2 linked regions of the Homo sapiens genome follow. The protein of the gene in region 1 purifies or fractionates together with the protein of each later gene. This does not show direct contact. Each region holds a gene or a part of one and is shown on either strand. Other genes may lie near its edges.

Region 1 (2,509 bases):
AACACATGAGTGGTACTATATAAAATAAATAGTAAGTGTAACCCTGAGTAGAAATCTATGAATTAGGAATTGGGGAACTGTCTCTGGATGAGAATAAGAGAAACAGAAGTAATATTGTAATGGCTTACCAAATGGAAATAAATGGATAAAGTATTACTAGCATTGATCAACAATAGTTATGAAGGGAGCTTGCAGGGTAGTTAGGCTGGAAATCTCACGGGGCTAAAAGCAGAACTTCTGATAAACTCTTGCCTTGCATATAATTTCTTCATTAAGGAGGAAGAGCAAACAGTGACAGGAGAGTCTGCTCTAGAGTTAGTTGTGAAAAGAGTTCACTGATCAGGTGTGGAGGAATGACAGAGGCCTTGGAGGAAAATGACCAGAGCATTTGCAAATTCACAAATATGACGGAAGGGGATACCAGGCAGAGTCAGATAAGTGCCCTAGAATTCAGAGAAAAAGTGGGAGTAAGCCCATGGACAGAGACACCACAATCAAAGTGGATTAAAGAGGGTCTTAAAACACAGAAATTTTAACATTTAGTAGGGTACATCAGAGGGAATGAAAACAGAGATCTAGAGAGTTACACATCACATTTTCCTGTGGCTATACAGAAGAATCTCTTATTGGTACAGAGTTTTTCCTTTTGAAAAAGTAATTTAGTTTTATTTCTAATTATAAAAGCTCAGATCTGTTTTTTGTTTTTTTTTTTTGAGACGAAGTCACACTCCGTCACTCATGCTGGAGTGCAGTGACATGATCTTGGCTCACTGCAACCTCTGCCTCCTGGGTTCAAGCGCTTCTCCTGTCTCCTGAGTAGATGAGATTACAGGAGTGTGTCAACGTGCCTGGTTAATTTTTTTTTTTTTGAATTTTTAGTAGATAGGGTTTCACCATGTTGGCCAGGCTGGTCTTGAACTCCTGACCTCCAGTGATTGACCTGCCTCAGCCTCCCAAAGTGCTGGGATTATAGGCATGAGCCACCTCGCCTGGCCAAAAGCTCAGATCTTAAAGGGGCATGAGCATATTGTAAAATGGCAGGTGCATAAAAATGAATACAGAAAAAGCAAACAGTCTTAAGTCAAATGACAGGGCCATGGAGGGTGGCTAAATCCCCACCTGAGCTCAGATGCCGGGCTTCTTCAGCAAGCTACAGTTTGAGCAGGTTGTTTGAAGAGCAGGGCTGCTTTTTTGAGTTTAGGATAGCAAGTGGAACTTCTCAGCCTGTTAAATGTTGACATTTCAGTGAATCCTGAAACTGAACATTCTATAGCAAAGGAAAAAACGATTAGGAGAGAAAGCCTAAGTTAAGGCCTCATTCAGTCAAAGTGTGTTACGTCAGGGAGACGAGTGTCTGTTATATTTTCTATACTCCTTAAATGTTGGAAATTTTTATAATTAAAAACATCTAAAACAAGCAGTCAAACCAAGAAACTAACTAAATTAAGCAGGGAGATAAAGTAAAAAGGGGAGATAGATTGCCTGGAGGTCTCTCTATCCTGAATATCCCAAAATTTCAAGAACACATCAGAAATTCCTCTACAGACAGTTCTCGGGGAGAAGGAACAAACACATCAGAGGGGATACCTCACACTGAAGCCACCGCAGATAAACATGGTTCTAGACCCCTCCCAATGCACATAGCACTTACATAGATATGGAATCAGGATCTTGTAAGTGAAGGTCACTTTTTTCCAAATCCCCAGCAAATATTTCAAATAAAATAGAATTTCCTTTTTTTTTTTTTTTTTCTTTAAGGGGCCTCACACACGTATTTGAATGTCTCTCATTCACTCCCATGTTCTTTTGGCAGTCAGAAGTATCAGTGCAAGTAAGTTCTAAAGGGGATGAGGGCACTTCATGGCTGCCTTCTATGGTCCAGGCTTGTACCTCTCATCACACTGCCATCCTAACAACCCACACAACAGGGACACTTGACCACGCACCTGCTAGAAAAGGTGGGGTGGGTGCCCAGGTCTACCCAACTTGGGAGTGTGTACTTTTCCCGCTATGTACTAGGCCCTTAATTCATGAAGCGCGAAATATGAGACAGATTCCTAAAACTCACACAATTTTGAAGAATGTATTTACCATCTGGTTCCCTATGGCCCTCAACCATTTTCACATGCTTATCTCAAGTCAGATTCCAAAGTATGCGGAGGGCAGCTGCTAATGACATATTTGTTAGTTTTAATTTTATTCTGCAGACATTATGCAGTTCTATAATATAAAATGAATACAATACTAAAATCTATTTCCTTTATTTACATGGTGTAACATTTCCAATAACAAACATTTCTAATCATGAAAGATGGTGTTAAAGCAGAAATATTGTCATGATTGAGTCAATGGGAGAACATAAAATATGCTGTATTTCATAATTTTTCCGTAAGAAAATGTCTAGTTTGTTTAAATGCAACAAATACTGTATTAGATTCACTTTATAAGCCATACACTCCTTCTTGTCTTTCTTTTGAACACATTCTGGAAGGCAGCTGTGAAGAACGGA
Region 2 (3,500 bases), on another chromosome or scaffold:
ATGGTGAAACCCCATCTTTACTAAAAATACAAAAATTAGCCAGGTGTGCTGGCATGTTCCTGTAATCTCAGCTACTCAGGAGGCTGAGGCAGGCGAATCACTTGAACCCAGGAGGCGGAAGTTGCAGTGACCTGAGATCGTGCCACTGCACTCCAGCCAGGGTGACAGACGGAGACTCTGTCTCAAAAAAAAAAAAAAGGAGGAATCTTTTGAAAAATAGAAATCCCCCCTCATAATTTTAATCCCACCATAATAGGTTTAACATATATCTCACTGGACATTTTTCTATATACATAGGATTGATATAGGATTATAATTTCCTTTATAAAACTGTGATCATGCTACATATAAATAGTTCTGCAACTGCATTTTACCCACAATGCTACATCCTGACCATACTAAAGGACAAATTATGCATAACTGCTTTGTCTTTGTACACTTTATGCCAGAGCGCAAGGACTTCCTTCATCTGACTTGTGCCCAGCCACACAGTAACGGGCACGGCTGGTAGGGCTGAGTCAGCTCCATGCTGACAGTGAGTCAATCCCCCAGGCGCAGTATGGCTGCAGGCAGTGTGGGAGACCCCATCTGTCTCCACCAACCCTGGGTAAGGTCAGCCGAGTTTGCAGTAGGTGGATGACCTTCCTAGACCTGAGATGGGGCTATTTAAAGGAACGTGACACCGAGCCAAAAATGTGGAGGCTGCAGAGCCAGCTTCCACAGAGAGGACCAGATCGGCCTTCCCTGGGATCTGCTTCCTCGGGCAAAGCAAACCTTGCAGTCACTGCCACTTGGCTGCTGACTGATATTATATTTTGCATTAGGAAATATACTTTTCATCAACATAACCAACTGTGACAGCAACTATACTGACATCTGTATAGCACTTCATACAATATTGTCTATAATATGAATACAACATCATTATATAATATATACAGGAATATCATAATATATAAATTATATCTGTTTATAATATTAGATATAATATAAACGAAATGTGTGTGTGTGTGTGTGTGTATAATTTTTTTTTTTTTTTTTTTTGAGACAGGGTCATTCTTCGTCGCCCAGGCTGGAGTGTGGTGGCGTGACCTTGGCTCACTGCAACCTTTGTCTCCTGGGCTTAAGTGATCCTCCCACCTCAGCCTCTCAAGTAGCTGGGACTACAGGTACATGCCACCATACTTGACTAATTTTTTCTATTTTTTTTTTTGTAGAGACGGGGTCTTGCCATGTTGCCCAGGCTGGTCTCAACCTCCTGGGCTCAAGTGATCCACCCACCTCAGCCTCCCAAAGGGCTGGGATTACAGGCCCATGTCCGACCTCTTTTTCTCTATATATATATTTGTGCAAAATATATAATTTTTTTTTAAAGAAATAGGTCTTGTTCTGTTGCCCAGGCTAGAGTGCAGTGGTGCATTCATAACTCATTGCAACCTGAACTCCTGGGCTCAAGAGATCCTTTTGCCTCAGTCTACTGAGTAAGTAGCTGGGACTAAAGGTGTGCACCCCCACACCTGGCTAATATTATGATTAAAATGTCATACATTTACATAATATTAAATATGTATTTATAGATAATAACAATATATACTATAATATTATACAATATTGTTATAATTCCCACTGAATTCTCAGCAGTGACTGGGGGTCAGACGTCTTCCCACCATGTGAGTGTCCCCTCCACTGGAACAGCTCAGGCTGGTACTGGATTTCCCATTGTCAAATTTTTCAAGACAGGAGCCTGTCAGTGACATGATACCAGCAGATTAAATCAACCACTCACCTCCACAGCAAATGATAGCAGCCACAAAAAGGGAGATATCACTGTCATCCAGTTCCAGTGCATTGAACTTCATGGCAAAATCAAACTTGGGTTCCATGATATCACAGAACGGTTTCCTTAGGCTTTTTAGGAATTCACGAGTTATAAACCCATTTCCATACGCTACCAGCATCCCGTCTTTGTTCATCACAGAAGACAGCATGGCGAATATGGCCTCATAAACTCCGTATTTTAGCAATGTCACTTGATCGTTCAGGTCCAAGTTTGCGAAGCCTGGGATGGCCTTGGCGAATTCCGTGAGCTCCGTGACGGTCTCCACTGACGTGCACTGGCAGCAGTGAAAGATGCGGACCTCCGCCTCCTTGTTCTGGATGCCATTGGCCACCAGCTTGGCCACCAGCGTCTTCTCAGCCATACACAGTGTCTCCATATCATGTATGACAAAAGGCTACAAAGGAGGACACCAAGGTAAGTCAGGTGATGTGGGATGCGCTATGCTCCCAGCTATCAGCTCACTAATGAGCAGCTCCTGCGTCCAAATCACCAAGCTCAGTGCCTCAGAGGACTCAAGATACCCGCGGAACATAGTCCTTACTCAACTTCAAAATCGGTTGGGGAAAATAAGACATTAATAGAGAACAAACAGTATAAATCAGTAAAATAATAATAGTCATCGCCTGACATTGGGTGGATTTCATCGCTAAGAAACTGAAGTACTGGGCTGGGCATGGTGGCTCACGCCTGTAATCCCAGAACTTTGGGAGGCTGAGGTGGGTGGTTTACCTGAGGTCAAGAGTTCGAGACCAGCCTGGCCAGCATGGTGAAACCCCGTCTCTACTAAAAATACAAAAAAATTAGCTGGGTGTGGTGGCGGGCGCCTGTAGTCCCAGCTACTCGGGAGGCTGAGGCAGGAGAATGGCGTGAACCCAGGAGGCAGAGCTTGCAGTGAGCCGACATTGCGCCACTGCACTCCAGCCTGGGTGACAGAGCGAGACTCCGTCTCAAAAAAAAAAAAAAAATTAGCCAGGCATAGTGTGTGCCTGTAACCCCAGCTACTCGGGAGGCTGAGGCAGGAGAATCGCTTGAACCTGGGAGGTGGACGTTGCAGTGAGCCAAGATCGTGCCACTGCACTCCAGTCTCCAGTCTGGGCGACAGAGCGAGAGTAAGACTCCGTCTCAAAAAAAAAAGAAACAAGAAACTGAAGTACTGATTTTGTCAAAACAAAACTAACGAGGACATTAGCAAAGCACCTTTAATATTCTTAAATATTCTCTGAACTAATGACTATTGCAAGAGGCTTAATTACGATCATTCTTAATTTTACCAGTATATGCACTTTAGGGGTGAACACCATTATTTAACGCTGCTCAATGAATACATTTGGCATGTAAATACATACAACTCAGAAAGGTGGCATCTATGTAGAAATCGGCAAACAAGCGTTGTGAAACTCTTTAGGGATAAAGTGGAAAAGCCTCGGAATGCCCTTGTTTCTCTCAGTGCAGGAAACTGAAACCTTCACTCGGTGCTCCATATTCTGGAGCAAGTGCCAACTCCCCACAGCCGTGCCTTGTGTGCTCCCATGCCATCTGCATGTAAACCCAGTGGCCTGCCATTTCCTGAAGATCTCGTGGTGGAAGAGGTGGCTGGCCATATTATTTGAAGCCAACATGCTCAGAAGGGATTACATGTGTGGGAGAGCCGGGGAAAATG

What was found.
Region 2: the proteins of TIMM21 (region 1) and PPARA purify together in Homo sapiens (co-immunoprecipitation; one large-scale study listed by IntAct). This does not show direct contact.

What each region holds. Positions count from the first base shown.
Region 1 is NC_000018.10:74,158,523-74,161,031, reverse strand, and holds the end of TIMM21 (mitochondrial import inner membrane translocase subunit Tim21 precursor), read right to left. Parts: 3' UTR 501-2,509; downstream 1-500. UniProt on the Homo sapiens protein: Participates in the translocation of transit peptide-containing proteins across the mitochondrial inner membrane.
Region 2 is NC_000022.11:46,230,526-46,234,025, reverse strand, and holds part of PPARA (peroxisome proliferator-activated receptor alpha), read right to left. Parts: intron 2,235-3,500; coding exon 1,787-2,234; intron 1-1,786. UniProt on the Homo sapiens protein: Ligand-activated transcription factor. Key regulator of lipid metabolism. Activated by the endogenous ligand 1-palmitoyl-2-oleoyl-sn-glycerol-3-phosphocholine (16:0/18:1-GPC). Activated by oleylethanolamide, a naturally occurring lipid that regulates satiety.